Linked DNA regions of Homo sapiens. The protein of the gene in region 1 purifies or fractionates together with the protein of each later gene. This does not show direct contact. Each region holds a gene or a part of one and is shown on either strand. Other genes may lie near its edges. The genes, in order: URGCP and PPIP5K2.

Region 1 (3,826 bases):
AGCTATTACTACCTTGTGATGTATTTTTTGCTGGCAAAACATTACATTTACATAGGAAAAACTGAAACCAATAATAGCACTAAAACATCAGCCACCATATTGTCACTTGACGTTTTTTGTTGTTGTTTGGTGTTTTTTTTTTTTGAGACAGGGTCTTGCTCTGATGCCCACGCTGGAATGCAGTGGTGCAATCACAGCTCACTGCAGCCTTGACCTCCCAGGCTCAAGTAATCCTCCTGCCTCAGCTGGGACCACAGGCTCGTGGCATCATGCCCAGCTAATTTTTGTTTGTTCGTTTGTTTTTGAGATAGCCTCACTCTGTCGCCCAGGCTGGAGTGCAGTGGCATGATCTCAGCTCACTGCAACCCCCGCCTCCTGGGTTCAAGCAATTATTTTGTCTCAGCCTCCCAAGTAATTCCAAGCTGGAATTACAGGCATGCGCCACCACGCCCAGCTAATTTTTGTATTTTTAGTAGAGATGGTTTTTCGCCATGTTGGCCAGGCTGGCTGGTCTCAAATTCCTGACCTCAAGTGATTTTCCTGCCTTGGGCTCCCAAAGTGCTGAGATTACAGGCATGAGCCACCATGCCTGGCCTAATTTTTTAAAAAAAGTCTTTGTAGACACAGGGTCTTGCTTTGTTGCCCAGGCTGGTCTCAAACTCCTGGACTCAAGCACTCCTCTTGTTCAGCCTCCTAAAGTGCTGGGGTTACAGGCATGAGCACTTGAAATTTTTGACAGAAAGGTTCTAACTTGCTGATGAAACTAAATGTATTTGGTTTCTTTTTTCTTCTAGATTTGGAATGGAGAGAAATGGAAGGAGATGATTGCGAGTTCCGTTATGGAGGTAGAAACTACAGGATTTGGCAACAGATTGGACTGGGGAGAGGGGGAGTGGGTAAAGTGACAGATAACCGGGATTTTATATTTAGAACAATTGGGAGAAGTTGCCATCTTGGTGAGAAAGAAGGGTTCTAGGTTTAGCTTCAATTAATTTGTGTCAGCCAAGGGTGCATTATTTGATTGACACTTCATTTTCCATTGCTTTTTCCATAGATGGTACAAATGAGGCTCAGGACAATGATTTTCCAACAGGTAAGCATTTTCTCTGCCTTTTCTCTCTGTTCTATGAAAGGGGGTTATCATCTAGGCCAGCAGTTCCCACACCTGACTGTATCAAATCACCTGGGGAGGCAGAGCACTCAGGTTTAGGATGCCCTACTTCATTAACCCTTTATACATTGTTAACCATATTGCTAAAAAAAAAAAAAAAAAAAAACCCTGGGAAGCTTGCTAACCACATAGAGTAACCAGGCCCCCCCTCCACCACCCAACATACTCACTGCCTTTAATAAGTTAGCATGTTTGGAGGTGAAACCCAGAGATGTTTCATTTTTTAACAAGTTCCTGAAGTGATTGATTCTAATGTACAGCCCGGTTTGGAAACGATTTATCTGGTCCAACGCCTTCATTTGCAGATCAGGATACTGGGCCCAGAGCTTCCAAACAACCTGCCAAGGGCCACACACTGGGCAGAAGTGTTTTCTTTGTCTTTTTCCCATTGCCTTTTACTACCATGCTACTTAAAAAATAAAAAGTTATTCCATGTCTGGACAAGAAAAACAATGTTCCTAGTTTCATTCAGGCAAAGCTAGGAAACCTGAGTAACACCTGTTTTGGCACAATGTGACTCTTCCCATATAGTACTTTTGTTTTTGTAACAAGTTCATAGGTCCCCTAATGTTCTGTGGGGCAGTCCTGTGGCCACAATGCCTGTGGAACTCTCTGAGCAGAGTGTCCAGCACTGTGAGTCCTGCTGGTCGTATGGAAAGTGGTCTTGAATCCATCACTTGACCTTCTTGGGAAACAGGCAGAGGGCTGGGTCACCCAGTGTTTCCTTTCATGGTTTATCTAAGCATCAAAGCAGTATCATACACGTTGCTTCCTCTCTCGAGAAAGGAACTGGAAAAAAGGCTGCAGGGCAGTGGAATTTGTATTTACTTCATGCATTAACATTTAAAGTGACTCAGCACGGTGCCTCACATCCAGCACTTTGGGAGGCTGAGGCAGGCAGATCATTTGAGCCAGAGAGTTCAAGACCAGCCTGAGCAATATGGCAAAATCCCGTCTCTACAAAACATACAAAAACTAGCCAAGTGTCTTGTGCACCTGTAGTCCCAGCTCCTCAGAAGCTGAGATGAGTGGATCTCTTGAGCCTAGGAGATCAAGGCTGCAATAAGCTGTGATCACACCACTGCCTTCCAGCCTGGGTGACAGAGTGAGACACTGCCTCAAACAACAACAAATTTTAAGACAACTAATTAATATGCAGCATGAACATTAGTAAGGTGCTGGGCCAAGACCTGGATGGTGAATGGAATCTTCAGAGGTAGCAATACTGTTTCAAGCATCTAGCTTATAAGATCTTATATTGTATAGGGTGATATTTGAGTATCTGCGCAAGTAAGTGCTCACTTACTAACAGTCTGCACTGAATATTTTAATACATTTAAAATTTAAAACTGCATTAAAGCCAGGCACCATGGCTCACACCTGTAATCCCAGCACTTTGAGAGGGCTAGACAGGTGGATTGCTTGAGTCTGGGTTCGAGACCAGCCTGGGCAACATGGCAAAAACCCATCTCTACAAAAAAATACAAGGATGAGCTGGGTGTGGTGGCACACACCAGTAGTTCCAGCTACTTGGGAGGCAGAGGTGGGAGGATCTCTTGAGCCCAGGAGGTTGAGGCTACAGTGAACTGAAATCATGCCACTGCACTACAGCCTGGGTAACAGAGTAAGACCCTGTCTAAAAAAAAAAGAAAGGGGAGAGGAAAAAAGAAAGAAAAAAAAGAAAACCTGCATTATTGATTTCAGGTTTGCAAAATGGTTGTTTAGCTATAATTGCTGACTCTTTATGCTTAGTGATTTCTTTCTAGTTCCTTTAAAATATTCTCTTATTTCTAGAGAGAAAAAAAACACAAAAAAACATTAACTAGAAAGCCAGAGAGTGATTCAGTGATTATGACTCCTGTGGGAACTTCCCGGTGACTCTGAGTAGCCCACGGAAGCAACACAGTGGGGAGGTGAGGCCTGCATTCAGCTTGTAGGAGTCATGTGCTGCTCACTGTAGCCAATTAATTTTGAGCTCAGTGTTAGATCTTACAGGTTTCTAGAAAGACCAGAAATATGGCTTTTGCAAGAACTCTTCCAGTTGTTAAATGTAGCTTATTTATTTCTGTTCTTTCTTTTGTTTAATGTCACATATATCTGTGGTTAGGTTGGTACCTATTGTACCTTGATGTCCGGGTTCCAGCCCTGCCTTGATCTCAGGTCAGCCTTGAGCACACCCTGAGCCTCCTGTGCCTGCACTCTGCTCTCTGAAGGGGGTCGTCACTCTCCCCATCCTGCTGGGCTCTCCTTCACCAGCTCTTCCCTGGCCCCTAGCTCAGAAACACAGGGTGAGCACTTATGTCTTCATTTCTTTCCACAGTGGAGAGAAGCAGGCTTCAAGAAATGCTGTCACTTTTGGGCCTAGAGACGTACCAGGTCCAGAAACTCAGCCTCCAGGACTCTCTGCAGATCAGTTTTGACAGTATGAAGAACTGGGCCCCTCAGGTTCCCAAAGACTTGCCCTGGAATTTCCTCAGGAAGTTGCAGGCCCTCAATGCTGATGCCAGGAATACCACTATGGTGCTGGACGTGCTCCCAGACGCCAGGCCTGTGGAGAAGGAGAGCCAGATGGAAGAGGAGATCATCTACTGGGACCCAGCTGATGACCTTGCTGCCGACATTTATTCCTTTTCTGAGCTGCCCACCCCTGATACG
Region 2 (3,826 bases), on another chromosome or scaffold:
AAAACCTTAAAGTTTATAACTTATTTTAAATAGCAAACAGTTTGTGGCTTTGATTTGTTACGGGCCAATGGACAGTCCTATGTCTGTGATGTCAATGGCTTCAGTTTTGTGAAAAATTCCATGAAGTATTATGATGACTGTGCAAAAATACTTGGGTAAGAATTTTTAAATTTTTCTTTTTACCTTCATATACTAGTTATTCAGAAACCAAATAACTGTTAACATTAAATGATCAGGGTTTTTAAGCATTCTAGAGTAAAGATCAGTGTTCATAAAATGATACCCCCAGAGACTATGCCAGATCCTGAATTATACTTTGGCTTATCAAAGACAGATTAATTTATGATCAGTATAGATGAAAACCTTTAACTTCATATGTTTACAAATACTATAACATGCTGATTATTAGTCAAAAGTTTATTTGTTAGAATACTTTATTCCTCAAATTTTTGCCATGTAGTTATAGTGGAAAAGGTTTTCTTCTACTTAATGGACAAAATTAACATTCATGAAATAAACAGAGTAAAATAGAAATATTTAGAATTCATGACTCTTTTGCATGACAATTCATTCTACAAGCATATGTTACTTGATGATATTTTCATAAGATTATCAAGTGAATGTAAAAAAATTATTGTAGGTAGAAATGCCATTTTTATATTCTTCAACCTGTTTTCTTTATACCTTGATTCAGAAGACTAGCAAGGCAATAACTATTTTTAAGACATTTCCAGGTATATATGACAAATCCATAGGAAACTTACATTAAAAAATGTTCGATAATTGGAGCTAGCTTTTATACTGGTTAAGTATCCCTTATCCAAAATGCATGGGACCAGAAGTGTTTTGGATTTCAGATTTTCAGATTAAGAACATTTAACCCACAGTATGTTTCAAAGATTTACAAACTTACCCTTAAAGTGATGTAAGGGAGAGTTTACTAAATTTTAGCATAAATAAATGCTAAATTTAAACAAAGCCAAAAAGTAAACATTTTTCCATTTTTAACCCTATTAGTATAGTAGTGATTTGTTAAGATGAACACAATATTTAGAGTAGCATTATAGATGTTCAATAAAGTGATAAGAATTTATCAGTAGCCACACAGAAGAGACAATCTTGAATTTCAGAATGTATGTAGTTAGATGTGATGTAATTGTAGTGATTTCTTTGAATCCAATGTTGATTGATATTTTAAAACTAAAGTAAATAATCTCAAATTTGTGAAATCCCATTGATGTGTCTAATACATCAATTTGGAACTGCTGATTTTTATTTTTTCTTGATCAGAATGGATTCTGTGGGTTATCTTTTATGTGATGTAATCACTAGATAGTTTAACTCTTATGATTCTCTCTCATCCTCATTAAGTACCCAGTTTTGTCTTAAAACGTACTAATTTTAAATCTTTTCTTTTTTGTCTTGAAGAAATATTGTAATGCGAGAACTTGCTCCACAATTTCATATTCCATGGTCAATACCCTTAGAAGCTGAAGATATCCCAATTGTACCAACTACATCTGGAACTATGTAAGTCTGAATTATTTTCATTTAGAAATTGAGTTTTCCTTGCCATCTGTGCTATTAGGATAAAAATTAAATTTCTGAATGATGATTAGACACTTTAGTGTGTATGATTTCATATGATTCAGCTTGAAGATAGAGGAGTAGATTATACGTATTTATAAGGGTCCACTAATTGTTACAAATAAACTACTGAAACATGCCTGGATAATTATAGAATTGTTTAATCAAGCCATAAAAATAAAAAAGGTACCAATAGGAATGTTACTTAAAGGTTCATAGTGGTCTTACAACTTTTGCTCTCTCAAGTCATATCTTGCATAATTATACCAGTATTGCCAAAATGTTTTATAACATTCTCTTACTGAAAATTATTCCTTTAAATTCATGTCAGTTGACTGAATGCTTTTTTTTCACAACTTAGATATTTATATTAACATGTTAAATATCCTGAGATGTACTGATGATGGGGGGAACTAATTTTGTTTTTAATCAGCATTTTTCATACTGATTTAACACGCAAGTGTTAAATAAAATTTTTTTCAGGTAACTCAATTGATAATCCTGCAGGGTTATGTTCTGCAGTTCACACTTCAGCACACACTAGATTATACCTCTGAATTCTAGCATGCTTCTAAGATGATTTTATCTTCCAGTAATTTGAGTTGTAAATACTTGTTCTCCTTACATGGGCAAAACTTAGCAAATATATAAATATAGCAACCATCATGTAAAGTTTTATTTTGATTTAATGAAGTCTCAGTCTGTAGTGACCTAATGCTATGGATCAGATATATAAGAAAGCTCAGAAATTGTAGTCCATCTACTTTTATCCCAGAGTTAATGTAGCCATTTCTAGAGAAGAAAAGGTTGTATTCTACTATATAGCTTAATATCACCTCCCTCCCCCAGCTTCTTAAGTTCTTTTTGAATTTTATTTCATAAAGTTAAAACTAGATTGTTATAAGTATTATTCTTCATGGGAAAGATCTTGAAGTGGTAAAAGATGGCTTTAAATAGATGACTAAATGTTCATATTAATCTGAATTATACAACACAAATCTTTTTTAGAGAATTAAGAACATATATATTTTTTCATTTTAGGATGGAACTTAGATGTGTCATAGCTGTTATACGTCATGGGGATCGAACACCAAAACAAAAAATGAAAATGGAAGTGAGACATCAGAAGTATGTTTTCAGATGAATAATTTAACATGCATGATACAATTTTAAGATTTCTGATAAGTGATCAACTCTTTTGATTAATACATCATATAGAAAAACTTTTATCTACTGTCTCTTGGCCATTTATATTTAAACCAGTGGGTGGGTACAAAATCCATTTAAAATATGTTCATTAGCATCTAAAATTATTGTGGCAATATTCATAAATATCATCAGTCTGCCCTGGCTTTCATTTATTGTCATAAAGGTGTTCTATTTAATCTTTGCTTATCACTCTCTTGTATTGCATTCTGAGAGTGAGTAATCCCTCAGCCTTTTAGAAGAAAATTAGTAGAATGAAAGTTTCTGTTATTTCTATCCAGTGTTTGGTTTGGAGATGATAAAATTTGAAAACCCTGAGCCATTAAGTATGTGTTGACACAAGTAATTTTCAATGTATATGCAATGACTTCAGAAAATATATAATATTATGAACTATAATTGTATGTTTGGTTTCCGTGAAAAAACTTTGAAAAGTAGTATGGTGATTATTAGTTTGGTATCATTTAGGAAAGTACTAAGTTTTATCAATCAAAGTTGAGCAGCAACATGTACAGTGAAAGAGGAAACACAGTACTTGAAATCCTTAGATCCCAAGTTCTAGTCCCATAGCTTATCATTTATTATTTGTTAGTTTAAACATATATTGGTAATGTTAATTATTGCAAGTGACTAACAGTGTTCTGTCTTTTTTATAAGATTTTTTGATCTTTTTGAAAAGTGTGATGGATATAAATCAGGGAAATTAAAACTCAAAAAACCAAAACAGTTACAGGCAAGTGTATTTGCTTTCTTGTTTAATTTTAAATTTTTTAGTGGTGAAATTACATAAAAATTCAATTTTTTATTAATTTATTTTATAGGAAGTGCTAGATATTGCACGACAGCTTCTTATGGAGCTAGGGCAAAATAATGATTCTGAAATTGAAGAAAACAAGCCAAAACTTGAACAACTTAAGACTGTATTAGAGATGTGAGTATCTTTTTGAAACGCTTAATTGTGGTACTACATATAGCTCTTCTTTTTTATGTATGTGATTTTCCATTTTAATTACTTTCACAGTCTGATCTTTTT

What was found.
Region 2: the proteins of URGCP (region 1) and PPIP5K2 purify together in Homo sapiens (affinity purification with mass spectrometry, with the first as the bait; one large-scale study listed by BioGRID). This does not show direct contact.

The regions. Positions count from the first base shown.
Region 1 is NC_000007.14:43,878,926-43,882,751, reverse strand, and holds part of URGCP (up-regulator of cell proliferation), read left to right. Parts: intron 1-794; coding exon 795-845; intron 846-1,054; coding exon 1,055-1,093; intron 1,094-3,491; coding exon 3,492-3,826. Other genes in the region: URGCP-MRPS24 (uncharacterized protein LOC100534592), read left to right, coding at 795-845, 1,055-1,093. UniProt on the Homo sapiens protein: May be involved in cell cycle progression through the regulation of cyclin D1 expression. May participate in the development of hepatocellular carcinoma (HCC) by promoting hepatocellular growth and survival.
Region 2 is NC_000005.10:103,151,220-103,155,045, forward strand, and holds part of PPIP5K2 (inositol hexakisphosphate and diphosphoinositol-pentakisphosphate kinase 2), read left to right. Parts: intron 1-33; coding exon 34-155; intron 156-1,428; coding exon 1,429-1,530; intron 1,531-2,628; coding exon 2,629-2,715; intron 2,716-3,450; coding exon 3,451-3,526; intron 3,527-3,614; coding exon 3,615-3,724; intron 3,725-3,826. UniProt on the Homo sapiens protein: Bifunctional inositol kinase that acts in concert with the IP6K kinases IP6K1, IP6K2 and IP6K3 to synthesize the diphosphate group-containing inositol pyrophosphates diphosphoinositol pentakisphosphate, PP-InsP5, and bis-diphosphoinositol tetrakisphosphate, (PP)2-InsP4.